Linked DNA regions of Homo sapiens. The protein of the gene in region 4 purifies or fractionates together with the protein of the main gene of each other region. This does not show direct contact. Each region holds a gene or a part of one and is shown on either strand. Other genes may lie near its edges. The genes, in order: NCBP3, KIF22, NCBP1 and KPNA3.

The links.
Region 1: the proteins of KPNA3 (region 4) and NCBP3 purify together in Homo sapiens (co-immunoprecipitation; 2 studies listed by IntAct, with this or other methods). This does not show direct contact.
Region 2: the proteins of KPNA3 (region 4) and KIF22 purify together in Homo sapiens (affinity purification with mass spectrometry; 4 studies listed by BioGRID and IntAct, with this or other methods). This does not show direct contact.
Region 3: the proteins of KPNA3 (region 4) and NCBP1 purify together in Homo sapiens (co-immunoprecipitation; 3 studies listed by BioGRID and IntAct, with this or other methods). This does not show direct contact.

Annotation. Positions count from the first base shown.
Region 1 is NC_000017.11:3,836,068-3,843,480, forward strand, and holds part of NCBP3 (nuclear cap-binding protein subunit 3), read right to left. Parts: intron 7,085-7,413; coding exon 7,019-7,084; intron 4,139-7,018; coding exon 4,033-4,138; intron 1-4,032. UniProt on the Homo sapiens protein: Associates with NCBP1/CBP80 to form an alternative cap-binding complex (CBC) which plays a key role in mRNA export. NCBP3 serves as adapter protein linking the capped RNAs (m7GpppG-capped RNA) to NCBP1/CBP80.
Region 2 is NC_000016.10:29,786,543-29,793,989, reverse strand, and holds the start of KIF22 (kinesin-like protein KIF22), read right to left. Parts: upstream 3,240-7,447; 5' UTR 3,231-3,239; coding exon 3,161-3,230; intron 3,023-3,160; exon of another isoform or gene 2,769-3,022; intron 1,525-2,768; exon of another isoform or gene 1,476-1,524; intron 1-1,475. UniProt on the Homo sapiens protein: Kinesin family member that is involved in spindle formation and the movements of chromosomes during mitosis and meiosis. Binds to microtubules and to DNA. Plays a role in congression of laterally attached chromosomes in NDC80-depleted cells.
Region 3 is NC_000009.12:97,643,772-97,651,184, forward strand, and holds part of NCBP1 (nuclear cap-binding protein subunit 1), read left to right. Parts: intron 1-1,345; coding exon 1,346-1,453; intron 1,454-1,839; coding exon 1,840-1,961; intron 1,962-3,720; coding exon 3,721-3,790; intron 3,791-4,236; coding exon 4,237-4,452; intron 4,453-6,731; coding exon 6,732-6,829; intron 6,830-7,413. UniProt on the Homo sapiens protein: Component of the cap-binding complex (CBC), which binds cotranscriptionally to the 5'-cap of pre-mRNAs and is involved in various processes such as pre-mRNA splicing, translation regulation, nonsense-mediated mRNA decay, RNA-mediated gene silencing (RNAi) by microRNAs (miRNAs) and mRNA export.
Region 4 is NC_000013.11:49,719,517-49,726,929, forward strand, and holds part of KPNA3 (importin subunit alpha-4), read right to left. Parts: intron 5,986-7,413; coding exon 5,900-5,985; intron 3,048-5,899; coding exon 2,961-3,047; intron 2,609-2,960; coding exon 2,439-2,608; intron 304-2,438; coding exon 259-303; intron 1-258. UniProt on the Homo sapiens protein: Functions in nuclear protein import as an adapter protein for nuclear receptor KPNB1. Binds specifically and directly to substrates containing either a simple or bipartite NLS motif.

The DNA.
Region 1 (7,413 bases), on a different chromosome or scaffold from region 4:
CACAGCAGAGCGACTGGCACATAGTAAGCACTTAACACACGTTATCTTTTATTATTGTTGTTGGTATTAATAACAAATAACTTGAACTTGACGCCTAGTGTGGATGCAGGAGTCAACATGGTTATTCCAATTTCCTCACTTGCCCAAGAAGCTAGGTCACTTAAATGACGGCTGGGAAGATGGAGAATACCAGATGATGATAATAAGCCACATTAACTGGGCACCTGCCATGTGCCAAGCGCCACTCTATGGACTGTAACATTTTGTTAGAGTCTCCCAGCAGCCCTATAAGAATTCCTGTCATTGGCCGGGCGCAGTGGCTCACGCCTGTAATCCCAGCACTTTGGGAGGCTGAGGCGGGTGGATCACAAGGTCAGGAGTTCAAGACCAGCCTGGCTAACATGGTGAAACCCCGTCTCTACTAAAAATATAAAAATTGGCTGGCCGTGGTGGCAGGTGCCTGTAATCCCAGCTACTCAGGAAGCTGAGGCAGGAGAATCATTTGAACCCAGGAGGCGGAGGTTATAGTGAGCCAAGATTGCGCCACTGCACTCCAGCCTAGGCAACAGAGTGAGACTCCGTCTCTCAAAAAAAAAAAAAAAAAAAAGAATTCCTGTCATCTGCCTTTCCAGATAAGGAAACTGAGATTTTTAGAGGCTAAATAACTTGCCCGAGGCCATAGAGCTAGAAAGTAACAGATTAAGATTTGAATCCAGGTAACTAGGCTTCAGAGCTCATGCTCATAACCATGAAACCAATGGTCCTCAATCCTGTCTGCACATTAAAAGTACCTGAAAAGATGGCCTGGCGCAATGGCTCACACCTACAACGCCAGCGCTTTGGGAGGCCGAGGCGGGTGGATCACAAGGTCAGGAGATCGAGACCACCCTGGTCAACATGGTGAAAACTCGTCTCTATTAAATACAAAAAATTAGTTGGGCATGGTGGTGTGCGTCTGTAGTCCCAGCTACTCGGGAGGCTGAGGCAGGGGAATCACTTGAATCTGGGAGGCAGAGGTTGCAGTCAGCTGAGATCGTGCCACTGCACTCCAGCCTGGGTGACAGAGCAAGACTCCTTCTCAAAAAAAAAATAAAAAATAAAAATAAATAAATAAAAATTACCTGAGAAGATATAAAAAGAATAACTATCAGCCGGGCGCAGTGGCTCACACCTGTAATCCCAGCACTTTGGGAGGCCGAGGCGGGTGGATCACAAGGTCAGGAGTTCAAGACCAGCCTGGCCAAGATGGTGAAACCCCATCTCTACTAAAACTACAAAAATTAGCTGGGCACGGTGGCAGGTGCCTGTAATCCTAGCTACTCAGGAGGCTGAAGCAGGAGAATCGCTTGAACCCGGGCGGCAGAGGTTGCAGTGAGCCGAGATCGCGCCACTGCACTCCAGCCTGGGCTACAGAAAGAGAGGAAAAAAAAAATGCTGGGCAGTGGCCAAGGTGGGTGGATCACGAGGTCAGGAGGTCAGGAGCTTGAAACCCTGTCTCTACTAAAAAATACAAAAAATTAGCTGGGTGTGGTGGCATGCACCTGTAGTCCCAGCTACTCGGGAGGCTGGGGCAGGAGAATCGCTTGAACCCAGGAAGTGGAGGTTGCAGTGAGCCGAGATTGCGCCACTGCACTCCAGCCTGGGTGACAGAGCAAGCCTCTGTCTCAAAAAAAAAAAAAAAAAGAAAAGAAAACCAGTAACTATCCCTGGGACCTATCCAACTCCAACTAATATAAAGTGGTCTGAGATGGGCAGCAGGGTTCCCCAGGGCTCAGGAACACTATCCTAGGCCATGCTGCCTCCTGGACAAAGAATCGACTGAAATAAGCAAGCTTCCCCAGCTGACATCCCACGGCCGACCTTACTGCCTTTTTTAGGAATATCTTTAGAACCGTGAGACTGGAGTTGTACGTTAAAAAAAAAAATTTTTTTAAATTAAAAGTTAACCCCAAAAGTGATCCTATTAAGGTAAGTATCATATTTCCATTTTACAGACAAGGAGACTGAAACTAACAAGGCTCAAGAACTTGTCCTCAGTCACAAAGGAACTGAGACTAGATTCTACGAGGCTTTTGCGCCCTAAAGAGCTCCAACAGATGTGAGAAAACACTTCAAGTGGGTGAGCAGAGATGCTCCACGGGGGAAGTGACACCTGACCAGAGATAAAGCATGGGACAAGGAAGGGCAAATGCACAGAATGAAAGGCATGAGCCGTATCAGAGGCAAGCCGCCTCAAGGAATGCTCTCGGGACCAGAGGTCGACAGGTGTGATAAAGCTATGACGCCCTCGCGGTAGAGTTGTGAGAGAGACTCACAGGTATGCTTGCGCCCGGCTGTGCAGGCACATGAAGGTCAAGCCACACCTGGCCTTCACAGGACTTCTCCTCAAACAGAAACCCCGCCCATGAGGGAAGCAAGGGCGTGTTTCTGACTTGAACTGGTCATGCAGGATAAAGAGTGAAGCAGCTTCCAGAGTTCAGCTCTGCATCCACACTGCTGGGCCCATTAGGACTGACTGAGGAGGGACGCAATATCAGTCGATAGCACCACATCCTACATTACACAGCAACAGAGCAAAGGAGTTAAGGGCAAGGCTCTAGAGTCAAAGAAACTGGGTGTGAATCCTGACTCCACCTTTACTAGCTACATGACCCTGGGCAATTTATTAAACTTCTTTGAGCCTGCTTCCTCTTTATAAAATAGGGATAAAAATAAATTCCTCATACAGTTGTTGTGAGCAACAAAAAAGAAAGAAATATATAATGTGCTTAACGAGTCTAGTAAAAAAGCAAGTTCACAACAAATAGCAGCTATTCTTTCATTCATTCAATATATTTACAGAGCTTTTGCTTTTATCAACCAAACAAGGCTAGAGAAGCTCATACAATACAGCACAGGCCTTTAACATGCATTCAGAAGGCTGCCTACTAAACCCTTTATGAACACCCAAATTTGCAAATAACACAGAGGGAAGCCTTCTGCATTCATGGATTTATATTATAGTAGAATAATAAATAAGAACATAGACTCACTAAAAAAGTAGTAATTTTTCCTTTTATTTATAAATTGCTTTAGAAAACTGCGGCAGATTACTATATACAATAATTCGGGGTGAGTTCTAGGGAGCAAAATACCCCAAAAAAACACAAAGATCAAATCAAATCACAAGTCCAACTGTAAGCGCAGGCTTAAAACTCAGGGCAGGATTAGTTTAGCTTTCTCTGACAACAGGATGTTACTGAGTGGTTTACATATATCAGATATTCAGATTATCAATAGATTCAGAATTTTTTTTTTTAAGACAGAGTCTCGCTCTGTCGCCCAGGCTGGAGTGCAGTGGTGCAATCTCGGATCACGGCAACCTCTGCCTCCCAGGTTCAAGCGATTCTCACGCCTCAGCCTCCCGAGTAGCTGAGATTACAGGCGCCAGCCATCACTCCCAGCTGATTTTTGTAGTTTTAGTAGAGATGGGGTTTCACCATGTTGGCCAGGTTGGTCTCAAACTCCTGACCTCAAGTGATCCACCTGCCTTGGCCTCCCAAAGTGCTGGGATTACAGGCATGAGCCACCACACCTGGCCAATAGATTCAGATTATCAACAAAAGTGTTAATGGCTTTTCCCCACCAATCTCAAAATTGCTCTAACTCCCCGAAAAGAAGGTCTCACTGTGATACACTTTCACTACGTTTAAAGGCAAAGAAAAGTTAACACCTCTACGATAAAAGGAGAAAATGAGTAAGGGTCCTTAGAAGCACAGGTTCGAATCTCAGCTCTGCCACTAACTGGTAACTTTTTCTGGGCCTCCTCAGAAAAGACAATCTCTTATTTCCCAGCTCTAACATCTGAGCCAGCTGACAGCATCTGAACTTTAAACAGGTGACCTCAGAAATGGAGACTTCACAGGTCCCTTCTCACAAGAGTGCTTGGATAAGGAGTGGACACGCAAGGCAAGGCCAGAAGCATGAGGTGATGGCAGGGAAAAGGCACTCTCTGGGGAAATGTGGACAAATTTCCCACAAAACACCCTGTACCTTTCTTCATCATGTCTCGGTCCAAGGCTACATTTCTTTGGGCAAGATTTACTTCCGATCGAAAATGGAAGCGCTTGGCTCGCTGCTCTTTCTTTTCAATTGCTTCCTAGAAAGTACAGAAAAAGTGAAAGTAGTAAAATATGGAGAAGGCGAGTTAAATCACACATGCATCATGATGCATCAGTGACAAACCTGAACTAAAAAAGAAGAAATAAGCAACACTACACCTTGAATCAGTCTGGCAGAGACCTGGATATTCACACTCAATGACTGGGGGGATATGTTAATATCGCTGTAATTTGCAACCATCTCCGACATAACACAGCCTATCACTGTGCCTGGGACATAGTAGGAACTCAGTGAGTATCTGCTGACTGAATGAATAGTCCTTTAAAGTTTATAAAGTTATATGACACTTCATTTGTTATTATCAATTATGCCAACAAATTACAACTAAACAATTTCAACATCCCAATTTTCCAGGTGCAGAAATGGAGGCACAAAAAAGCAAAAAGGTTTGCTGGAGATACTTCAGCTATTAAGCAAGCAGATCTGATTCCAGTGCTATTTCTAGGAGCCCACCTACAACCACTTCACATTGTCTGAGCAATGGTAATCACACCTATCACGCTCTTCCACATTATAACTGCCTGAGCAGTCCACTCCCTAAAGCTAGTCTGTTTAAAAATAACACCGAAGCAAAGAAACTCTCCCTCCTCTTCCAGCCTCGTGTCCACGGAATCACCAGTTTTCATCTCTAAGTGATAAGAACCATTGACACTTTACTGAAAAAATAATCAGCTTTGTAAGTTTCTTCTAAGAGCTAAAATAAACCCAGGTCCAACTGTGGGTTTCTGATGGCTCTTAGGAACCCTTCACTAATTGGTTTTGTTTGTTTTTGTTTTTGAGACGGACTCTCACTCTGTCGCCAGGCTGCCACGATCTCAGCTCACAGCAACCTCCGCCTCCCGGGTTCAAGAGATTCTCCTGCCTTAGCCTCCTGAGTAGCTGGGACTGCAGGTGCACACCACCACGCCCAGCTAATTTTTGTATTTTTAGTAGAGACGGGGTTTCACCATGTTGGCCAGGATGGTCTCGATCTCTTGACCTCGTGATCTGCCTGCCTCGGCCTCCCAAAGTGCCAGGATTACAGATGTGAGCCACCGCGCCCAGTCCCCTTCACTAATTGTATATTGACTTTGCCACACTAATTGAAGGTCTGACTACAGAGAGCTTGTGGGGATTGGTAAAGTTGCAACACTTCTGTTCTTTCCCAATAGTTAACGCTCATTTTCTTCACTGAAGTCTTCCTAGTACAAACAACAATTTACCTTCCTTTAGAAACAAAGTACTAACTCTGAGACTATCACCCTTTTCCCATATACCTGTGTCATATAATGGCAAACAGTGTAAGATTATGAATAGTTTACTTTTTCAATTACAGTAAGAAAAGATTTTCACTTTATTCTCTTTTCTTGTCTAAAAGATGACCAATTCTCTCTCTTTTTTTTTTTTTTTTTTTGCGGGGATGGGGGGCCTTTAAGTGATTGGAAACACAAGAGACACAGATAAACCATAAAAAGGTTAGCTGGGCATGATAGCATCCACCTGTAGTCCCAGCTACTCGGGAGGCTGAGGCAGAGGGATCAATTGAATCCAGGAGGCAGAGGTTGCAGTGAGCCGTGATCGCACCCCTGAACTCCAGCCTGGGTGACAGAGTGAGACTCTGTCTCAAAAAAAAAAAAAAAACACTATAAAAAGGAAGGCACGAAATATATTTTTATTTTTGCTTTTATGTATTCAATACAGCAATATATACTATTATTCAGAAATGTAATACAAAATTCTGTTCCAAACTTAACTGTAAACATTAAAATCAGAAAAAATGTCTAAAACGGAACATCACTGATTAAAGCAACTTACATGTATTGACTACATATAAGGAAAATAATAGGCTTGACTCTATGAGGTGTTACAATGAAGGTGGTAATCTGGTAATAGCAATCATCAGATACAAGGCAATAGTCTTATTAAGGGCCTATTATGCCGACACGGTGGCTTACACCTGGAATCCCAGCACTTCGGGAGGCTGAGGCAGGTGGATCACCTGAAGTCAGGAATTCAAGACCAGCCTGACCAATACAATGAAACCCTGTCTCTACTAAAATTACAAAAATTAGCCAGGCGTGGTGGCGGGCGCCTGTAGTCCTACCTACTCAGGAGGCTGAGGCAGAAGAATCGCTGGAACCCAGGAGGTGGAGGCTGCAGTGAGCCGAGATCGCACCACTGCACTCCAGCCTGGGCAACGGAGCGAGACTCCACCTAAATATGGGGGGCCTACCATCTGCCAGGCACTTTTCATGTTTTGTTTCATTTCAAGTGGAAACAGTACACATTTTTTTAGAAATGGACATACCATTTAAAAAAGCATCCCCCGTCTTGGACATTTTCTTGGAAACGGTTCAACACAGGTATCTAAGTAGAGTGATTTTATCCTTTCATGGCTGTAAGAACACACAAATGCTGCCTGTACCGTTTCAGGATGCATGAAGACATCGTTGTATAACACAAAATTTTTTTTTGTTGCCCCCACTGGAGTGCAGTGGCACGATTTCAGCTCAGTGCAGCCTCAACCTCTCAGGCTCCAGCGATCCTCCCACCTCAGCCTCTTGAGTAGTTGGGACTACAGACCTGTGCTACCACACCCGACTAATTTTTGTATCTTTCGTAGAGACGGGTCTCACTATGTTGCCCAGGCTGGTCTCGAACTCCTGGGCTTAAACGATCCACTTGCTTGGCCTCTCAAAATGCTAGGATTACAGGCATGAGCCAGCGTGCCTGGCCAATAACACAATTTTTTTTAGAAAAAAAATTTAAATCCAGCAACAAAATAAAAGAGGAAATATTTACTGTTATGTCCTAGGGATCAAATTCATTAAGTTCACTTGCTTATCAAGCTGAATAAATAAATCATAGCCTGTCTTACCTTGGAGGTGACATCAATTCCAGTGATGAAGCTGCCAGCCTTGTTTTCATATCTTCTGCTCGTGTCCTAACACAAAGGGGAAGGGTGAGAAATTCAGACAGCAATTGAGGAAAAACCTATAATAAAAGTCGGCCTGACATCTGCAGGTTCTTTTTTCCTTTTTTTTTTTTTTTTGTTGGTGACAGTGTCTTGCTCTGTTGCCCAGGCCGGAGTGCAGTAGAATGATCACAGCTCACCGCAGCCTCGACTCCCCAGGCTCACGCCATCCTCCCCCTCAGCTGGGCCCTCAGGCATATGCCACCATGCCCAGCTAATTTTTTTTTTATTTTGTAGAGACAGGGTCTCCCTATGTTGCCCAGGCTGGTCACCAACTCCTGGGCTAAAGCAGTCCTCCT
Region 2 (7,447 bases), on a different chromosome or scaffold from region 4:
TCACTATTCAGCAGGGTCACCCATGACTTCCCTAGTGCTAGATCCAGTAGGCATACTCAGCCTCAATCCTGTTGGACCTCCCAGAAGTATGCGACACTCTTGGGAAACACACTTTTCCCTTCATTTCCATGCCCCCCACCTTCCTGGTTGTCTTACCTAGTTTTCTGTTCACTCCTCATCCTAGGATCCGTCTATCCTTTCTCTAGACCAGCATTTCTCAACTTCAGCACTACTGACATTTCGGGCTGGCTAATTCCGTTGTGGGGCTGTCCTGTGCATTTAGACTGTTAGCATATGCTTACTAGATGCCAGTAGCATTCTCCACCCTCACCCTCAAGTTGTAACAACTAAAAATCTCTCCAGACATCTCCAAATGTCCTGTGAGGGACAAAGTTGCCCCGAGCTGAGACCACTCAGATTCATTTCATAGGCAGGTCACCCGCCCTCTTGGCTTCAGTAACATCTTACAGCTGATAAGTCCTATTGCACGTTCTGCACAAGAGCTCTCAACTGCAGCCCACGTTCTGAACGGCTGCCCTGACGGCTCCTTTTTTTTGAGACAGAATCTCACTGTCGCCAGGCTGGAGTGCAGTGGCGCTCTTGGCTCACTGCAATCTCCGCCTCCCGGTTCAAGCGATTCTCCTGCCTCAGCCTCCCGAATAGCTGGGACTACAGGTGCACGCCACCACGCCCAGCTAATTTTTGATTAATTTTAGAGACAGGGTTTCACCATGTTGGCCAAGATGGTCTCGATCTCTTGACCTCGTGATCCACCCACCTTGGTCTCCCAAAATGCTGGGATTACAGGCGTGAGCCCAGCCGACGGCTCCTCTTAAACTCCACCTGTCCTAAACTGAACCCTCCTTCCCCATCTCTCTGCAGCCTCCTCCTTTGATCTCTGATGTAAATGAATGGCACCAACCCCAAAAGTGGGAGTCTTTAACTCCAACGTCTCTTACCTCCCACATCAGTTCATCATTAACATCTGTCAAGTCTATCTCTTTAAATCTCTCTTGAACAAGTCCACTTCTCTCCACTCCCACTGCACTACCTCTGCCCAAGGTCATGGTCTTTACAGCCTTCCTTGCTGGTGGTAGCAAGGTGTCTCCCTGCCCTCTAGTCATTCCCTCTGTTTCCTTCCTTGCAGTGTAAGTTACCAGTCATGATGAATTTCCTTCACTTCCTACAAAACTCCAAGTTCTCTTGCACCTTTGGATTTTTGTCCACGTTAATCTCTCTCCCTAGAATATCTGCATTGCTCCCCACCCCACCCTGGAGTGACTAAGGTAAACACATTTTAACTCCTCTTAAAAAACAAAACCAAAAACCCTTTCCTGGTAGACACTAAGGCTTTATCAGGTGCAACCACAGCTCATGTTAGCCCCTCCATAAGCATTTGTCACACCCCACTATTGCGTGTTTGTCACTTTCTCCACCTGACTGCCAACTGTGAGAACAAGTTTTATCCTGCTCACCTTTCTAACCCCAACACCTGGCGCAGAGTAGGCCCTCAAGAAGTATTTGCTGAAAAAAATTAAGATTTAGTGAATAAACTACTAATCACTGGCTTGTTCATTTCCATCATGAAAATGGCTCACGGCCATTCCTGCCCCAGGGCTCACAGTCCAGGGTAGGAGGGAAGAGGGGAGGGCCACATGTAAACAATTATTTACTGCACAAGAGTCTAGCCCTTTCATGATAAAAGCAACCTTGAGCTTGGACCAGGCTAGCAATTATTAATTTTCCCTTCTTTCACAATTCCTAAATTTCATTCACTCTTCTCCCTTTTATTGATGAGGAAATTGAGCTAAGAGAGCATCTTACATCATAAATAAGAAAACACTTGCTGTTCTTGTCTTCTTAGTCAAGGCCTGGCAAACTCCTATCCAACCTTTGAAACCCATCTCAAGTATCATTCACTCCCTTAATGAAGTCCTCCCAGAATACTCAAGGGCTTACTTCAGATTCCACACCCTCAGTTTATACACATCTCTCATTGTGTTTCGTATTACATCTACGTATGTGACACTCTATTGAAACAGACTGTAAATTCCTCGAGGAAGGGACATTATTCATTCAGGCATTTTCATATCTACCATGCACCGGACACAGTGCATCTTCGAAGGGTAAGGGGAGACTGTGCTCAGCCAGCAGGGATAACATGTACTTGGGCATAATGGTTAAGAGCAGAGGTTCTACACTCAGACTCCTTGAGAGCGAATTCAAGCCCCAATATTTACTAGTTGTGTTAACTCTGAACAAACTAACCTCAGTTTCCTGTGTAAAACAAAGACAGTAATAGTAACAACCTGATAGCATTGTGTGGACAATAAATGGTTCACCACCATAAAATGCCTACAACTGTGCCTGGCACATAGCAAGAGCTCTACATGTGTTAGGCATTCTCCTAAATGTCTGTTTCCCCACGAGGCTAACGAGGGCTCCAGTGAATTACTATGGCGCTCACCATCATCACTAACGAGGATTAAGTCTCCGGGTTAGAGAGGCACATGTAAACAAATACTCACATACAAGATTTTGGGTGTCCTAACAGCCTTTCCAACCCTAAAATAGCATTCACTTCCATGCTAGAGTGAAAGGAAATTTTAGTCTTTTATTTCGTTTTCCTGTAATCGCAGAGCATCTTACGCTGCCAACTCAAACCCAGCAGCAGCCGGGTCTGTTCCTCAGCCCGTCCTCTTGCATCTCTCAGGGATGTCTCTGCACCCAAACACCATGTCCCACACAGAACCCTTCCCAATACACGCCTCCGGCTCCCTTCTTCTCGTCCTCGTGGCTAGAGCGTCCGCCACTCTTCTCTTGCTTATTCAGGTGATCTCCAGGGATGAGGCCATGACCCCCGTTTCACAGACGAAGAAACCGAAGCTCACAAAGAAAAAGTGCGCGGGGTTCAAGCCAAGAGCCTGGACCGGAGACCCGAGTCTACTGACCCAAGGGGAGAGCAGGAAACAGGGAGAAGGCAGGAGCCAGGCGGGGCGACCGGCTCGCGACCCCACACTCTCACCGTCCCCCTCTCCCCGCCCCTGCGCCATGGCCGCCTCTCCGCGACAACCCGCAGAGCCTGGACCACACTCCGACACATAACTCCCACTAAACTCCAGACGTCGGTACCCGCCTTGCCCAGGCCGGGCTCAAGTACCTGAGATCGCCGCCGCTGAAGCTGCCGCCATCTCGCGTCGCCTCTGCTGCGTCGAGCCGCCCGCGGCCATTCCACTCCCTCCTTGGGCCCGCCTCTCCCATTCGAATTCCCCGGTGCCCCGCCCCCTCTCCCAGGTTCCACCAATCAAGACTACGCGCCGCCGGAAGCTGCTGCGTGTGGGTCGCCACTATCCCGCCTTCCAGCGCTCGCCTCCGGGTCCCCAAGAAAAGGTTCCCCTGGTCAGGACGCATGCGCGCGCGTGGGCCGCGCAGCCGTTGATGTCTGGAAGCGCGCTGCGATACAAACCCCTACGCAGGGATGTTGGCGACGGTGGCCGCTGGGGGAGCTGCTCAGCGCCGCCCGGCACTGGGCTCCCTTTCCCTTTACTTTCTGCAGTTTCTTGCCTCCGTGGGTGGTTGGCGCGTCTGCGGAGCCAGGGTCGTTGTGTGGATCGTGGGACTGCAGCCCCAGCCAAAGGGCTATCACGTCTGGTCGGTTCTGTAGATCTGGGCCCCAGGGGCTGGACTCTGGGCAGTCACGTTGCAGTCGCTGCCTGCTGGGCCCAAGGCCACTGTAGGTCCCCTCGCGTCCGTGTCAGCCCAGGAGAGCAGCTTGGATGTTCCTGTCTTTATAACTTGGCACTCAGCACGTCGGCGAAGCGTGGAAAACGCTTAGTCTGTGATTCAGTCCCACTCACCCACGGTTCCGGTTCCCAGTCCTTAAGAGTACAGCAGTCCGTTGAGTAGCTCTCTGTCCTTTCTGAAGGGTTGGCTAGGGACGGTCATTCCACTTTTGAGCACCAGGTAGGTAGGGCCCAGGTTTAGACATTATGTTCCACCCTGTTGAACAACAAAACAAAACACGGGCCGGGCGCGGTGGCTCAGTCCTGTAATCCCAGCACTTTGGGAGGCTGAGGCGGGAGGCTCACCTGAGGTGAGGAGCTCGAGACCAGCCTGGCCAACATGGCGAAACCCCGTCTCTACTAAAAACACAAAAATTAGCCGGGGATGGTGGCACGCCTGTAGTCCTAGCTACTCGGGAGGCTGAGGCAGGAGAATCGCTTGAACCCGGGAGGTGTAGGTTGCAATGAGCCGAGATGGTGCCACCGCACTCCAGCCACGGCGCCAGAGTGAGACTCCGTCTCAAAACAAAAAACACAAATCTTAGATCAGTGTTTCTGAAACGTTTTGCCTTGGGATCCCACTACAGTTTTTAAAAATGAGGCCTCCAAAGATGTTTTGTGTATATGAGGGTTTTTGTTTTTTTGTTTTTGAGACGGGGTTTCACTTCCATCTCCCAGGCTAGAGTGCAGTGGCTCAATCTCGGTTCACTCCAACCTCTGCCTCTTGGGTTCAAGTGATTCTCCTGCCTCAGCCTCCCGAGTAGCTGGGATTACAGGTGTGCACCACCACGCTCAGCTAATTTTTGTATTTTTATGGAGACAGGGTTTCACCATGTTGGCCAGGCTGGTCTCAAACTCCTGACCTCAAGTGATCCACCCGCCTTGGCCTCCCAAAGTGCTGGGATTACAGGTGTGAACCACCAGGCCTGGCCGTATATACTGTGTGTGAAGTGAAACTAAATTAAAGTTGACATTAATGAATTTAAAAATTACAGTAAAAAACCCATAGACATAAAAAGGACATCTAAGTAGTGGTTGCCAGGGGATGGTGAGGGGCTGAGGAGCTGGCACTACAGCAATAGATATAACGAGTTTCTTTTGGGGGTGATGGAAATATTAAATATTTTGGAATGAAGTAGTGATGATGGCTGCGTAACGTAATAAACATACTAAAAACCAGAGAGGTGTGCACTTTTTTTTTTTGAGACATAGTCTCTCTCTGTTGCTCAGGCTGGAGTGCAGTGGCGCAATCTCAGCTCACCGTAACCTCCGCCTCCTGGGTTCAAGCAATTCTCCTGCCTCAGCCTCCCGAGTAGCTGGGATTACAGGCATGCACCACCGTGCATGGCTGATTTTGTGTTTTTAGTAGAGACGGGGTTTCTCCATGTTGGTCAGGCTGGTCTTGAACTCATGACCTCAGGTGATCCATCCGCCTCGGCCTCCCAAAGTGCTGGGATTACAGACGTGAGCTACCAAGCCCTGCCTAGACCTCCATCTCTTTTTTTTTTTGAGACGGAGTCTCGCTCTGTGGCCCAGGCCGGAGTGCAGTGGCGCCATCTCGGCTCACTGCAAGCTCCACCTCCCGGGTTCACGCCACTCTTCTGCCTCAGCCTCCCGAGTAGCTGGGACTACAGGCACCTGCCACCACGCCCGGCTAATTTTTTGTATTTTTAGTAGAGACGGGGTTTCACCGTGTTAGCCAGGATGGTCTTGATATCCTGACCTCGTGATCCACCCGCCTCGGCCTCCCAAAGTGCTGGGATTACAGGCGTGAGCCACTGTGCCTGGCCTACCTCCATCTCTTAAAAAATAAAATTAGCCAGGCATGGTGGCACACACCTATATTCCCAGCTACTTGGGAGGCTGAGGTGGGAGGATTGCTTAAGCCCAGGAGTTTGAGGCTGCAGTGAGCCGTGATGGTGCCACTGCACTCTGGCTTCAGTGACAGAGGGAGACCTTGTCTCAAAGACACACAAAAAAACTAGATTCTCATATCTGCTTCTGCATTCATGCTGTTGTGATGTCACATATAATATAGTATTTTGAATACTCCACTATATACTTGAGAAACAATGCAAGAGAAGTCAATTGGTATCTTAGTTTTATTATGAAAATAGTTTTGAACTTGTAGACCCACTGAAAGTGTCTCAGGGACTCCCAGAAGTCTCTGGACCATACTTTGAGAACATCTGACATTGGCAATTGGCAGTTTGGTCTTCCTTGCCTGTCAGAAAAGGCTGTTCAGTTTTCACATTTGTTGTCAACTCCAGATATTTGGTAAGAAACCTGCCAGAAATAGTGAAAAGAGCATAGATCAAGGAGATAGGGCTTCTATGTTTGAATAAACCATTTAGGTACAGGGCCTTGGTGCCAGGCTGCCCAGACCAGAGATTTAGCCTCTTTGTGCCTCCATTTCCTCAGATATTAAAAGGGAATAATGGTTGAAATACCTCCTAGGGTTGTTTTAAGGATCTGCATCTGGCTGGTAGAAATTAGGGTGGTTTGGCCAGGCGTGGTGGCTCATGCCTGTAATCTCAACACTTTGGGAGGCTGAGGCGGGCAGATCACCTGAAGTCAGGAGTTTGACACTAGCCTGGCCAACATGGGGAAACCCTGTCTCTACTAAAGACACAAAAATTACCCCGGCGTGGTGGCACACACCTGTAATCCCAGCTATTCAGGAGGCTGAGGCAGGAGAATCACTTGAACACAGGAGTTGGAGGTTGCAGTGAGCTGAGATTGCACCACTGCACTCCAGCCTGAGGGACAGAGCAAGACTCCATCTGAAAGAAAAAAAATTAGCCAGATGTGGTGGCATGTGCCTATAGTCCCAGCTACTTGGGAGACTGAGGCAGGAGGATCGCTTGAACCCAGGAAGTGGAGGTTGCAGTGAGCTGAGGTCATGCCTGTGCACTCCTGCTGGGATGACAGAGAAAGAAACAATTGATTTTTAAAAAATAACTTCCAGGCCGGGTGCAGTGGCTCACGCCTGTAATCTCAGCACTTTGGGAGGCTGAGGCAGGCAGATCATGAGGTCAGGAGATCGAGGCCATCCTGACTAACACGGTGAAACCCCGTCTCTACTAAAAATACAAAAAACTAGCTGGGCGTGGTGGCGGGTGCCTGTAGTTCCAGCTACTCGGAAGGCTGAGGCAGGAGAATGGCGTTAACTCGGGAGGCAGAGCTTGCAGTGAGCCGAGATGGCACCACTGCACTCCAGCCTGGGTGACAGTTGGAGACTCCTCAAAAAAAGGCTGCTCACGATGGCTCACGCCTGTAATCCCAGCACTTTAGGAGGCCGAGATGGGCGGATCACAAGGTCAGGAGATTGAGACCATCCTGGCTAACACGGTGAAACCCCGTCTCTACTAAAAATACAAAAAATTAGCCAGGTGTGGGGCGGGCGCCTGTAGTCCCAGCTACTCGGGAGGCTGAGGCAGAAGGATGGCGTGAACCCAGGAGGCGGAGCTTGCAGTGAGCCGAGATGGCGCCACTGCACTCCAGCCTGGGCGACAGAGTGAGACTCTGTCTCAAAAAAAAAAAAAAAAAAAAAAATTCCAAACTATGTCTTTAAAAGAAGCAAAGGAGGTCAGATGTAGTGGCTCATTCCTGTAATCCCAGCACTTTGGGAGGCTAAGGTGGGAGGATAGCTTGGGTCTAGGAGT
Region 3 (7,413 bases), on a different chromosome or scaffold from region 4:
AATTTCTCTCAAGTCTGTCCTTTCTTAGTCTCCAGGGCCTCTAGCATAGTTTATGCCTTCCTCCAGATGTTCTTAATAGCCTCTTAACTGATCTTTTTGCATCTAGATTCTCTGCTTTTCACTTTGTGTTCTACAGTGGCACCAGACTGGTCTTTCTATAACTAGGCTCTGCACATGTTGGTTACTGGTTAAAAAAACCTTAGTTCCTTCCCATTGTCTACAGTGAGTGGTCTTAAAAGCCTGGTGCACAAGATGATTCCTTGGGTTTCAGGAAGTGAATATTAAGAACTCTTATTTATCTTAAGTGGAAATGAAATTAAACCTTACTAATAATACATAGATTAATGGTGATCCAGTGTATATCATAAATACATATGTATGTGTTGAAGATATGTGATCAAATTCTTTTTTACTGAGTACACAATCAAAAAAGTTTGGACACCCATCAGGCTATAGGATTAAAGTCCAGACTCTTTAGCCTGACCCTTTATGGTTTCCCCAGTCTGTTTCTCTATTCTTGTCTCCCATATGCTCCCCAGCAATATCAAAATAACTTGCAGATCCCTAAACACACCTTGTTTTTGAACCTCTATGCCTAGACTGCCCTCCTTGCTCACTACTTGAGGCTGTTGCTATCCTTTATGACCTAGCCTAATTGTTACCTCCTTTGTGATGCTTTCCCCAACTCCCTTTGTCATTGTTCCTAAAAAATGCTTAATTTGCCTTTTAGTGTGGGAGTCATTCCTTTGTATTGAGATTGTGCTTGTTCCACTAGAATGGGTCCCCTAACAGTGACTTTTAGTAGTGTTTAGCAATAGCACACTAAGCACACCCAATAAATATGTGTTCTGTAATTTCCATTTCTGTAATTCAGTGAAAATTACAGCCAAACAGAAAAGGAGATTATAGGTTGAAGTAGCTAGAATATTTTACAATCTGGATTCTTGATGTAGTATAGCATAGAAACGTATGAACTCACAGATTACTGTCCTTTATATAGTCTTTGTTACAACTTCTCAATTCTGCCATTGTAGCACAAAAGCAACCATAGACAATATGTAACTGAATGAGCGTGGCTATTCCACTAAGTTTACTTATGGGCACTGAAACTTGAATTTCATGTAATTTGTATATGTCATAAAATACTCTTGATTTTTTTTTCACGCATTTAAAAATGTAAAAACCATTTTTAGTTCCCAGCTATGCAAAAAACAGGTAGTAGGCTAGATTCAGCCCTTAGGCTATAGTTTTTTAGACCAATAGTTTAGCCTATACAAGATTGCTTATTTTGTAGTTATTATAAAGAACATTTAGGTTTAATAGCAGAAATTGTTTGCCCCAACAGGTCCGTTTTTTATCTGATCTTGTGAATTGTCATGTGATTGCCGCCCCATCAATGGTTGCTATGTTTGAAAATTTTGTAAGCGTAACTCAGGAAGAAGATGTACCTCAGGTAAGAGAACCCCTCATGCTGAATCTTGAGGGGTTCTTGAGGGGTTACTGAATCCTGGTACTTCCATATAGTACCAGGAATTTTTCGCTGATAACCCATTAGCAATAAAGAAAAAAATAACAGCAGACTATCACACTTTAAGTTCTTACTATCTAAAAATTAAGCTGACTGGCACACTGGTGGGTTCTCATAATATCTGTATGTTGATTTAAATGATGCTGTCTAGTAAGATTAGAACTAATATATCTAGAAATGCTCTGTATAAACCAGATGTCTTATTTAAGTCCTATTAAATAGCTTCCATAGGATTTCATTCAAGAATAAATAAAATATGAATGAATATAATTAAAGCATATTTTAAACTTAACTTTTTAAAAATCCTTTAGGTGCGACGAGATTGGTATGTGTATGCATTTCTGTCATCTTTGCCCTGGGTTGGAAAGGAGTTGTACGAAAAGAAAGATGCAGAGATGGACCGCATCTTTGCCAACACTGAAAGCTATCTTAAGTAAGGGCACAGCTCATAGTACTCTTTGTTGCTTAGGTAAAGGATATCTTATATCAGTGATACCATTTGAGTTTCTCAAAAATAAGCTGTAGAGTTCCTGAAGGTATTTTCTAGGTAATCCTGTTCTCCTGCTGTTTTAACTCACTGAGACCTCAAAGTAGTCAGATATGGTTTGCTTACTTTTGCCAGTGCAAAGGACAGTTGGCAATATAGCTTCTTTTAAGCTGCTTTTATATGTTTGTTTATAAAAGACATAAAACACCCTAGTGCAATAGTTCCTCAAATATTAGTGTGGATAAGAATTACCTGTGGTACTTAAAATACTCAGACCCCAACCCCCAGACCTGATAAATTATACAATTTGAGAGAGAGGTTTGGACATCTGTATTATTAACACATTTCACAAGTGGAGAACCACTGTCCTAGCACATACAGTATATTTAGTTCATGTAAATTAATCTTAAATCAAGCTCTTAAAACAGTGGTCCTTAACCCTCCATCCAGCCAGTACTTCTTAAGTAATATGACACATTTCAATTAAAATAGTCACATGTCTTCCCATTACTCATCTCTCCTAAGCCAATGTAAAAGCTTGGTTTATATTGTTAGATACAATAATAATAAATAGGTCTTTTTAGTAAATTTATGCTTAACTATCCAGCAACATGGTAATGGTTATGTGGCCCTTAGGTTTTTACAGATTGATTTTGTTGTTAAGTTTCATTTTCTCTTTTTTAAGTGCTTTTTTTGGATAACTGTTAATAGCTACTTAGTTGGTTATTAAGTAAAGTTAAAAGAAGCTTAAAAAATAAGAATCTTTTGGCCGGGCGCAGTGGCTCACGCCTGTAATCCCAGCACTTTAGGAGGCCAAGGCAGGTGGATCACCCGAGGTCAGGAGTTTGAGACCAGCCTGGCCAACATGGTGAAAACCCATCTCTACTAAAAAATACAAAAATTAGCCGAGCGTGGTGGTGGGTGCCTGTAATCCCAGCTACTCGGGAGGCTGAGGCAGGAGAATTGCTTGAACCCAGGAGACGGAGGTTGCAGTGAGCCGACATGGTGCCGCCACTGCACTCCAGCCTGGGCAACAGAGTGAGACTCCGTCTCAAAAAAAAAAAAAAAAAAAAAAAGAATCGTGTGTGTGTGTATACATATCCTTTCTCTTTTTTATTCAAATGATAGCCCAATATACACACTGTTCTTCACTTGGCTTTTTTTTTTTTTCTTACTATAACTTGGATTTGTTGCATAAAAATACTTAACTCTACTTCATTCTTTTTAACAGTTGTAGGGTATTTCACTTTTTAATGTACCATGATTTCCGTAGTCTCCTGTTGGTGGACGTTTAGGTTATTTTCAATCTTTTGCTCTTATAAACAATGTTTCAGTGAATATCTTTGTGTATATGTTTTTATGTACATGTGCAAATATATTTATGGGGGATATAAATTTTTAGAAATGGCATTGCCGAGTTGAGGGTTCTAAACAATTTTGATAGATTTAGTCAAATTACCTTCCAAAGAGATTATACTTTCCCAAAGAGATTATATCAGTTAACCTCTTTGTCAACAATGTTTGAGACTGAATCTTGACCTGCATCTTGATGATACACAGTACATTATCAAAACAGTTGATATCTGCCACTCCAGTAGGTAAAATGTTATTTCATTGCTTTAATTTGCATTTTAATAACTGTGAGGGTGACTGAGCATCTCTTGTTTTTAAAAGCCTAAATGTAGATTTTCATTTTTATCTTTAGAAGACGCCAAAAGACTCATGTACCCATGTTACAGGTATGGACTGCTGATAAACCACATCCACAAGAAGAGGTAAATGGATTTCAGTCCCTTGTGATACAAACACAGTCAGCTCTTGAATAGATTCTTATCTCTGTAAGATACTCAGACCATTCCATTTTACCCTTTGACTGTGTTTCTACATTTCATGATAGTTCCTTCTCATAGCTCAAGGTGTATGGTAGGTCTTTAATAGATGATAGAATGTAATTGAAATATTCCCTTGTTCTTTGGAATGCCAGCTATTACAGAGTTGACATATATTTATTTAAATGCTTAATTTGAAAAATGTCAAAACAGACAGTTCCAAACAGGTAGACTTTGTAAGTAAAATAAAAACAAAAACTTAGCACCTTTTTTTGTACCATCTTACAAGTTAGCTTACTTTTGTATCCTGTATTTTAAAGGGTAGTGATTTTTTCATTTTGTCTAGTCAAAATGTTAATTATATTAATGATTAAAAATTAATCTGTCTTTAGTATTTAGATTGCCTGTGGGCCCAGATTCAGAAATTGAAAAAGGATCGCTGGCAGGAACGGCACATCCTAAGACCTTATCTTGCCTTTGACAGCATCCTGTGTGAAGCACTGCAGCACAATCTGCCTCCTTTTACACCACCTCCTCACACTGAAGATTCAGTGTACCCAATGCCAAGGGTCATCTTCAGAATGTTTGATTACACAGATGATCCCGAGGTAAGTGACCGACTAAAAGTCCTAGATATTGACCTGTGTTGCATTGTGCTTGTGGGTTAATCCCGCTTGAATTATGCCTGTGGTATGTTTTAATTTTGAGTTGTTTTTATCTAAGAAGGTCAGTAGCAATGAAGTTAACTTTTTAATTCAGTGAATGATATCACCTCATTATGCAAGAAATTATATTTGGCATGTGTAAATAGATTACAGAGACGTGCACAGTTTGCAGGCTAAGAGTGTGGGTTTTGGGTTTTTAGAGCTACGTTGGTTTGTGTTTTAATCTTGGTTTAGCCAAATACTAGCTGTGTTAATTTGGGAAGGTTATTTACCTCCCTGTGCTTTCATTTCCTGAAGGTAATAATAATAGTATACATCTCATAATAGTAGTATATATCTCATGTTATGAGGATTAAATTATTCACATGTAAAATGCATAGAACAAGAACAGTGTCTGTCACATGATGAATGCTCAGTCATTCTGGCAATTTTTCTTTCTTATTTTTTTCTTTTCGAAATGGGGTCTTACTTTGTTGCCCAGGCTGCAGGTGAGATCTAAGCTCACTGCAACCTCTGCCTCCTGTGCTCAAGCGATCCTTCCACTTCAGCCTCCTGAGTAGCTGGGACCACAGGCATGTGTCACCTAGCCTGGCAAATTTTTTGTAGAGTTGAGATTTCGCCATGTTGCCCTGGTTGGTCTCAAACTCCTGGGCTCAAGCAATTCGTCCGCTTCGTTTTCCCAAAGTGTTGGGCTTACAGGCATGAGCCACTGCACCTGTCCATAATTATACTTAATAAGGTTATTTCTCAGTAAAAGTACCTAGTTTTAGGTATGGTCCCTCTCTAGGCAACACAGCCTGTCTTGTGATTATTCATATTGTATGATTATTTGAAAACAAATGTTGGAAGTATTTTTAATTAAAAAATTCCAAAGATTAGTCTAAGCTGACTTTATCATTTTTAATATACATGTTCTTTATTTCAAAGTCAAGTTTCCTGGCAGCCATTGTACTGTTATAATTGTATATTGTACAATTAAGAAAATTTATAATTTTCATTGTGGGTACTATCCTGTGTATTGTAAGATGCTCAGCGGTGTCCCTGATCTCTACCCTCTAAATGTCAATAGCACTCTCCCTGCCTCAGTTTTGACAACCAAAAATATCTCCAGAGAGTGCAATATGTCCCCTCAAGAGCAAAATTGCCCCCAGTTGAAAACTATTGCCATAAAAATTAATATTACCACCTAAGTCAAATTTGAGTTTCTTCTATTGTCTCTTTTCTGTTCTATGGTAAAGTGCTAATGACCAGTAGGAATTTAGTATATATGTAATCTATTTTGGAATAAAAATTTCTCAGATAATCAGTTACATATACAAAATTATCAGCTTGCTGCCGTCTTTGCTATATTCCATATGTAACCAAATACTTTAGTCAAAATTATGTAATGATCTACTTAGATATGTCTAACTGAAAATCTGGTTTACATTTAAGACTGCTAATGTTTGTGGTCGGGTATTTTTTTTTTTTTGTGCAGGGGAAACTAGAATGGGACCTCAAAATTTGTTTCTCCTGAATTTGTATTTAATTGGTATCACCTCTGTAAGGTGCATATCCATCCCTTGCTAGAAGAGTATAAATATATAAAATACATATTACTCCCAAAACGAACAGGATTTTGTTTCTGTTCTGGCCTTTTACAAGTTGTTTATTAAAAAACATTAGAAATTGTAAAAAAAAGATTAGAATCATCCAAAAGTCATTATTAAAGGTTTATTTTGTGTGTTTTGAACCTGTTTGCTATGAATATACTTAAGAATAAAATAATGCCATGTAGGGAATATGTTTTGAGCTTAGACAGTATATTATGGGCATTTTTCAATTCATGCATGACTTTTTATGGCTATGTGGTGTTTGAATAGAATTTTCTCTCTGCATAGTTATTAATGGAAATAATTCACTCTCGGTTTAAAAAATAAACTCTGTAAGACTTGTATTATCCAAAATTATTTAGTTTCATATAATAATTGGTGTGTAAAGTAGGCAGTGGTTGTATGGTTAGGTATGAGATGTGGTAGAAAAAACACTACAGCTGATACTCTGGGGTATAAGTGAACATGACAATGGAATTTCCTGAAATATAGAGCTTTAACACTTCAGAACTTTTATCCCCATCACCCAGTTTAGTGCTTGGAACATAATAGTCTCTCAAATATTTGTTGAATAAGTAAAAGAAATCTGTTTTCTAGGCCTGTAGTGTACACATTTGGTTTTCTTTCCAGGGTCCTGTCATGCCAGGGAGTCATTCAGTGGAAAGATTTGTAATAGAAGAGAATCTTCACTGCATCATTAAGTCCCACTGGAAGGAAAGGAAGACTTGGTAAGATTCTTTTCATGGTACTTTTAGAAGGGAGAGAAGCAGCAATTTTGATAATTCAGTAAGAGCAAAATATATGTTGAGAGTGTAAGAAAATTTTATCCTCCTGACTCCCTGTCTTGCTAAAATCAATTTCTAAAAACACTTGCTTTACTTTCTCAAGGCTCTTCACCCTTGTATAGTACTTTTCGAGGTGCTTTATAGTAATAAGCGTATGATGCCAGTGTGTTTGGTGTGGATATTTAGTATATGCTATGGAGAGCTTGAATGGCAAGTTATTTTGGGTTTGGATACCAATAGTTTTGCTCTGTTTTCTAGCATTTAGACACCCAAGCTTTGGAATTTTTTTTTTTAAATAAAATTTTCTTAAACTTTGGGAAGTTTGGTTTAGATTTTAAGGTGGAAATGAATATAGTATTATGAGAGTGATCTACTCTATTAAAACTTCTTTAAGTTAGTACATCTGAATATGCTTCCTTAGTATTATTACCTAGACTCCTTTTGAGCTTTCAAGAAATTTTGGATGCAGTAAAGATTTTCCTTGTGGTAGACAGAATAATTTATGCCATAGTTAAATGAAGTAACTG
Region 4 (7,413 bases):
TTTAAAAACACTACTTAATAATGACAGAAATAAACTACATATGCAGTAATTTCTCAAAAGTGAGCATTTTTGCTGTCTGGCTGTTACTGCTTACAGATTTAAGCTATAAACCTAATTTAAGCTTAATCCTATTTCTGAAAACTGTAAATACGTTGTAGAAACTTGACAAGTTGATAAAATGTATGCTGACACTTACATAAAAACCCTTTCTGTCCCATCAAGAGCAAAATCCCACATTTAAGCTGCTTCTTAACTTACGTTTATATCTGTATGGTATATGAGGACACATAAAGCTGGCAAAATCTGAGGAAAGAAAATAAACAATACTTAACATTAGTTAATTAATATGTCTGTAAAAATGAACAACTTTGACATAAAAAGCGGTAAATATGGTTTGTAGGGCGAGAAAGACAATGTTAAATTTGTCTGAATATCTTTTAGGAAAATGAAAACCTGATAAATTCAATCTAAAAAAACCAAAAACATATCTCAAATGTTAAACTGAAATATGTTCAATTAACAAGTTAAAATATCCAAATAAATCTGGCAGAAGTTAATGTACCTTAAAATAAAAACATTTGTTTTTAATAACCTTCTTTATGGCATAAAATGTCAAGTGGAAAAAATGGAGATGCAAATATACAGTTACAGCTATTTAAGAAAAGCTACACTTAAAACTGCCGTAATTGTCTCACTTACCTGCTTAACGTAAAAATACGATTTTACTTAATAAGCTACTTAAGTCAAATTAAAGTTTTCAACTTCACCTTTAGTCAAGAAAATTCGAACCAGTACAAAGTACAAAGCTTTGCTTGTTAAATTCAGGCCCCAGAGATCTCTTTTTAAAATATGGGAGAAAGGGAGCAGGGGGTTGTAGGAAATCACACAAAATACCTTTGCATAGCAACAAAAAGTAGCAGGTACTAGAGAAAGATGTCCATTATAAAGATACACAGTTGGCCAAGTGTGGTGGCTCATGCTTGTAATCCCACCACTTTGGGAGGGTGAGGTGGGTGGACTGCTTGATGCCAGGAGTTCAAGACCAGCTGGCCAACATGGTGAAAACCCATTTCTACTAAAAATACAAAAATTAGCCTGGCATGGTGGCACATGCCTGAGACATGAGAATCGCTTGAACCCCGGATGTGGAGGCTGCAGTGGGCAAAGATTGTGCCACTGCACTCCAGCCTGGGAAACAGAGCGAGACTGTCTCAAAAAAAAAAAAAAAAAAAAGAGATAACACAGTCAACAGTGAATAAAGGTTATGTAGGATTTTTTTTTAAAATGCAAAGCACAAGGATCTATTTACATATCAAATGTAAATAAAAAAGTTTTTACTTTGTTTTAATTAGTAGATTTAACAAAAAATATGTCACACTTTTAAGAACTCCAATTTTGTCAGTAATAAATTGGAGTTAGGCCGTGGGGGCAGTGGCTCACACCTGTAATCCCAGCACTTTGGGATACTGAGGTGAGCAGATCACTTCAGGTCAGGAGTTTGAGACCAGCCTGGCCTACACAGTGAAACCCCATCTCTACTAAAAATACAAAAACTAGCCGGGTGTGGTGGCGCTGGCCTGTAATCCCAGCTACTCAGGAGGCTGAGGCACGAGACTCGCTTGAACCCAGGAGGCAGAGGCTGCAGTGAGCTGAGATCATGCCACTGCACTCCAGCCTGGGCAATAGAACAAGACTGTCTCAAAAGAAGAAGAAGAAGAAAAAAAATCAATTGGACTTAAAGCAAACTCATTCAAGAACATTTGCATGTAAGTATACTAGTTTTGCCTGTAGCAACCCCCTTTTATAGCTTTAAACCAACAATGCAATACAGTAATAAAACTTTGAGATTGTTTTCCTTTTGTATTTTTCTCTCTGAATTTTTATATTTTCTTTTTATGCAGATAATCAAAAAAATAGGCATTAGGATGAACTGACATTCTTTCAGGTACAGTAAGACACTCAACTTTTATTTCATAGGAGTAATTAAATATGGTACGTTACTTTTAAAATCTTACACCTGTGGCTGGGCGTGGTGGCTCAGGCCTGTCATCCCAGCACTTTGGGAGGCCGAGGCGGGCAGATCACGAGGTCAGGAGGTCGAGACCATCCTGGCTAACATGGTGAAACCCCGTCTGTACTAAAAATACAAAAAAATTAGCCAGGCGTGGTGGCGGGTGCCTGTAGTCCCAGCTACTCAGGAGGCTGAGGCAGGAGAATGGCGTGAACCCAGGAAGTGGAGCTTGCCGTGAGCCAAGATCGCGCCACTGCACTCCAGCCTGGGCGACAGAGCAAGACTCCGTTATCAAACAAACAAACAAACAAAAAACTCACACCTGCAATGAAATCAGTATATGTATTATTTTGTCCCCTGTATATGAATTCCTGAAGTACAAACATAGGGAAAATATACCATCTGGCCTTTACAATTCTTCATTTACCTCCTGAACTGTCTCCATAGGCGGCGGGGGATCCTTATTCCTGCAGAGATTGACAATGACCCATGTGACGTTCCGAAGGAAGGTGATGGGGATGGAGGGACTGATGAAGGACAGAAGAGGTTTGACAACTCCCAGTGATATGACATAATCTCTACATTGAGGACCATCACCTACAGAAATGAAAATTATATTTAAAAAAAACTTACATTCAGGATGAGAAAGTCTGAAATGTATGCAATGGCTCATGTGGGAACACTGACGTTCTATGTTTCCTCACCATTAGTCAAAGGCATCAAGTGTTGTTTCTCCAGATTTTGATCTGGGGAACGTAAATTTAACCTACCAATGCTAACAGCAAACTGTATATCCTTTTCAAAGAGCATCATCTTAAGTCAGTACTTATGAGGCAAGAAGAGAGTCAACACACATTAAATTCAGAGGAAACATAGTATGTAATGGCTATGCCAATGTAGGAAAAAAGTTAATTTAGATTCTTAAGAGGATTCCTTTCAAACCACTTACCTATAATGTTTCCCAAAGCCCATACTGCTTGTTCACAAACATTCTGATGTGGTGAACGAAGAAGTCTCAGAAAAAGAGGTACTGCATCTGTAATAAAGAAAAACTAATATTTATACTAGCAACATGTTGAAGAGTTTACAGATTTCAGATCAAAGAAATTGATCAAATACACAGCCTGGCATATTGTAGCTGGAAGAACAAATGTGGCAAATATCTTTACCCTAAAAAGAATCAATTTCAGTATTTTCCCCTAGTAATAGTCAAGTACCGTAACCAACTGGCAGTATCTAAAGGTTGCTATCATACCATTAACTAAAAGAAAGCAACAGCATGAAATCCTTCCTATAATCCATTAAAAAAAAAAAAAAAAAAAAAAGAGTTCCTACCCCAAACATGTAACCTTAAAATGTAATGCTTTAGTCTACAAAATCTCAATTCCTGATACGGGGATTAACCAAAGAACTGATTAATCTCATATCAGGTCTATCTTATACTTTAAAATAATTTCTCATAATCCTTACTCTTTACAGAATGTATACATTATACCCATTTCCAGCATAAGCTAGATCACTTTTTAAAAATTTCAATCAACTGTGCACTACCTCATTTTTTTTTTTTTGCTGTATCTGTGTATTACTTGTATTATTTACTTAAAATTTAAATTAATTCAGTTTTAACAACTTTACGGAGATATAATTACAATAAATTTACATTTAAGTGTGTAATTCAATGACATTTCATATTTATACAGAGTTGTGAGGACATCGCCACAATCTAATTTTATAACATTTCCAGGACCTCAAAAGAAATCTTGGCTGGGTATGATGGCTCATGCCTGTAATCCTAACACTCTGGGAGGCCGAGGCAGATGGATCACCAGGTCAGGAGTTCAAGACCAGCCTGGCCAAGATGGTGAAACCCTGTCTCTACTAAAAATATAAAAATTAGCCGGGCGTGGTGGTGGGCGCCTGTAATCCCAGCTACTTTGGAGGCTGAGGCAGAGAACTGCTTGAACCAGGGAGACGGAGGTTGCAGTGAGCCAAGATCGTGCCACTGCACTCCAGCCTGGGTGACAGAGCAAGACTCTGTCTCAAAAAAAAAAAATATCATACTCAGCCGGGCACAGTGGCTCACACCTATAATCTCAGCACTTTGGGAAGCGAGGCGGGCAGATCACGAGGTCAAGAGGTTGAGACCATCCTGGCCAACATAGTGAAACCCCGTCTCTACTAAAAATACAAAAATTAGCTGGACATGGTGGTGTGTGCCTGTAGTCCCAGCTACTTGGGAGGGTGAGGCAGGAGAATTGCTTGAACCCAGGAGACGGAAGTTGCAGTGAGCTGAGATCACGCCACTGCACTCCAGCCTGGCGACAGAGCGAGACTCCGTCTTAAAAAAAAAAAAAAAAGAAAAGAAAAAAGAAAAAAGAAATCTCATACTTAAGGCAGTCATTCCACATTTGTTCCTCTGCCACACATTCCCCAAGCGGCAGGCAACCATTAAATATCTGCTTTCTGTCTTTACAGATTTGCCTATTCTGGACATTTCATACAAATGAAATCATACTGTGTTTTTTGGGGGGTCTGACTTCACTTAACATTCTTCAGGTTCATCCATGTGGTAACAGGTATTGGTACTTCATTCTTTTTTACTGCTGAATTGTATTCCATTGTATACACCACATTCACTTTATCCACTCCTCGGTTAATGAACATTTGGGTTAGTTATGAATAACATTGCTGTGAATATTTATGTACAAGTGTTTGTATGAATATGTTTTCATATCTCTTGGTTTCACCTAGGAGTAGAACTGCTGGGTCACATGATAACTTTTTTTTTTTTTTTGAGGTGGAGTCTCGCTTTGTCACCCAGGCTGGAGTGCAGCGGCACGATCTCGGCTCACTGCAAGCTCCGCCTCCCGGGTTCACGCCATTCTCCCGCCTCAGCCTCCCAAGCAGCTGGGACTACAGGCGCCCGCCACCATGCCCGGCTAATTTTGTTTTTGTATTTTTAGTAGAGACAGGGTTTCACCATGTTAGCAAGGATGGTCTTGATCTCCTGACCTCGTGATCCACCCGCCTCGGCCTCCCAAAGTGCTGGGATTACAGGCTTGAGCCACTGCACCCAGCCTTTGTTTTTGAGATAGGGTCTCACTCTGTCGCCGGGGCTGGAATGCAGTGTGCAGTCTCGGCTCACTGCAACCTCTGCCTCCCTGGCTCAAGCGATCCTCTCGCCTCTGTCTCCTGAGTAGGTGCGACTATAGGCATGCGCCACCATGCAATGCTAATTTTTAAATATTTTGTAGAGACACGATTTTGTCATGTCACCTAGGCTGTTCTTGAACTCCTGAACTCAAGTGATCTGCTTGCCTTAGCCTCCCAAAGTGCTGGGATTAGAGGCATGAGCCACCTGTGGGTCTGGTGAGAATAGTATTCTCAATACATGATTCAATGTAACTTACTGCCATATCACATGCTACTTAAAATCACCTTGATTACCACACCTAAAATTAGCTAAGTGTCCCATACTATAATAACGTACGTGGTGATATCTAGTACTTTTCTAAAGAGCTTGTGTCAGTGTCATTTAACAATAATTATTAGCCCATCTTGAGGAAAGTAAAATTTAAAATATGTCATAAGCTAAAAGGCAGAAGCCATTCAGCATCTTGAAGATATCAGAAACGGAATTTAAAATCCTGTTATCACAGCATGATGTCTACTCCAAAAGATAAAACTCTACTCTTCTTTTAATAACCACAATTAAAAATTTTTCATGATAAATTAATGACGGCTATGAAAAAGATATCGGTCATCAAAAGTAACTTATAAAAGTCATCATTTAAAAAATGTTACAAGATAAAATTTCTTTATTACAAAACTCTACTTCCTTGCCATCATTAAAACACAAAAAGTTCAGACAGTAAGGAATTTACTTACTAGACTGCACAACAGCTTGAGTCTGTGCAGAAGTTCCTGATGCTATGTTAGTTAATGCCCAAGCAGCTTCAAACTGTAATGAAGGACTGTAAAAAAACAATAACACATCTTTTTAGACACATAACTACCACTTAAATTAATGAATCTTAAGACTGATAAGATATGGCTATTCTTTGCCTTGTCCTTGAATTTCACCTTGTTATAATCCAATTGCCTGCTAGCCAACCCTACTTTTTTTTTTTTTTTGAGATGGAGTCTCCCTCCATCACCCAGGCGGGAGTGCAGTGGCGCCATCTTGACTCATTGCAATCTCTGCCTCTGGGGTTCAAGTGATTCTCGTCTCCACCTCCCAAGTAGCTGGGATTACAGGTGCACATCACCACACCTGGCTCATTTTTGTACTTTTAGTAGAGATAGGGTTTCACTATGTTGGCCAGGCTGGTCCTGAACCCCTGACTTCAGGTGATCTGCCCACCTCGGCTTCCCAAAGTGCTGGGATTATAGGCATGAGCCACTGCACCCAGCAGCCATCTCTACTTAAAAAATCTCTTTGGCTCCCAAAGCCAGTCACTATGAACCTGCTTCTTTATGTCCACTGGTATTACAACATTTAGCCAGTCATTATTTCCCTTGACTTCGACTTCCTCTCCACAGACACATCTAATCAATATATCATGTCGATTTTACCTCTTAAACATTTCTTACATTTATATAATCACCCCTAATATCAAGTGCTAGTTGAGGCCCTCATCATCTCACTTTAACCACTATCACACGCTCTAGGCTGGTCTTAAAGCTAGAACCCCATCTGTCTCCATTACACCATCTGCTTTACATACTAGGGATATTACAAGGCTGTATAATTTTGTTGAAAAAACAAGATCATTATATTTTCGAATAGTAATGGAAGACCTCACAAAGAAAGTGACAACTGAACTAGCTTTTCAAAGATGGATTTAAAAAGAAAGGCAGTGACAGTGGGAAATAAAACAGGTATCATGCATGGAAGGATCATGATGTGTAGGAACGACAAGGATTAGATCAAGAGAGCTGAAACTAACTAAGAAGCAAGTAACAGGGTGTTTGTGCATGTGTGTGTGTGTTTCAGGATGGGAGTGAGGAGTGTATTCTACAGATATGCTAAGGATGGGGCATTGAAAAAGGGAGGAAAGAAAATAATGTTCAAATCAATGGTATGCAGAATGGCTAAAAAAGGTTAAAGGCTGATATAGGAGAGACCTATTAAAAGACATGTTGGGGCTTACACCTGTAGTCCCAGCACTTTGGGAGGCTGAGGCAGGCAGATCGCTTGAGCCAAAAAGTTCGAAACCAGCCTGGGCAACACGGTGAGACCCCATTTTTACAAAAAATAAAAAAATCAGCCAGATGTGGTGGTACACACCTGTAGTCCCAGCTACTTGGGATGCTGGGCGGGGGTGGGATGGGGGGATTGCTTGAGCCTAGGAGTTTGAGGATTCAATGAGCTGTGATTGTGTCACTGCACTCCAGCCTGG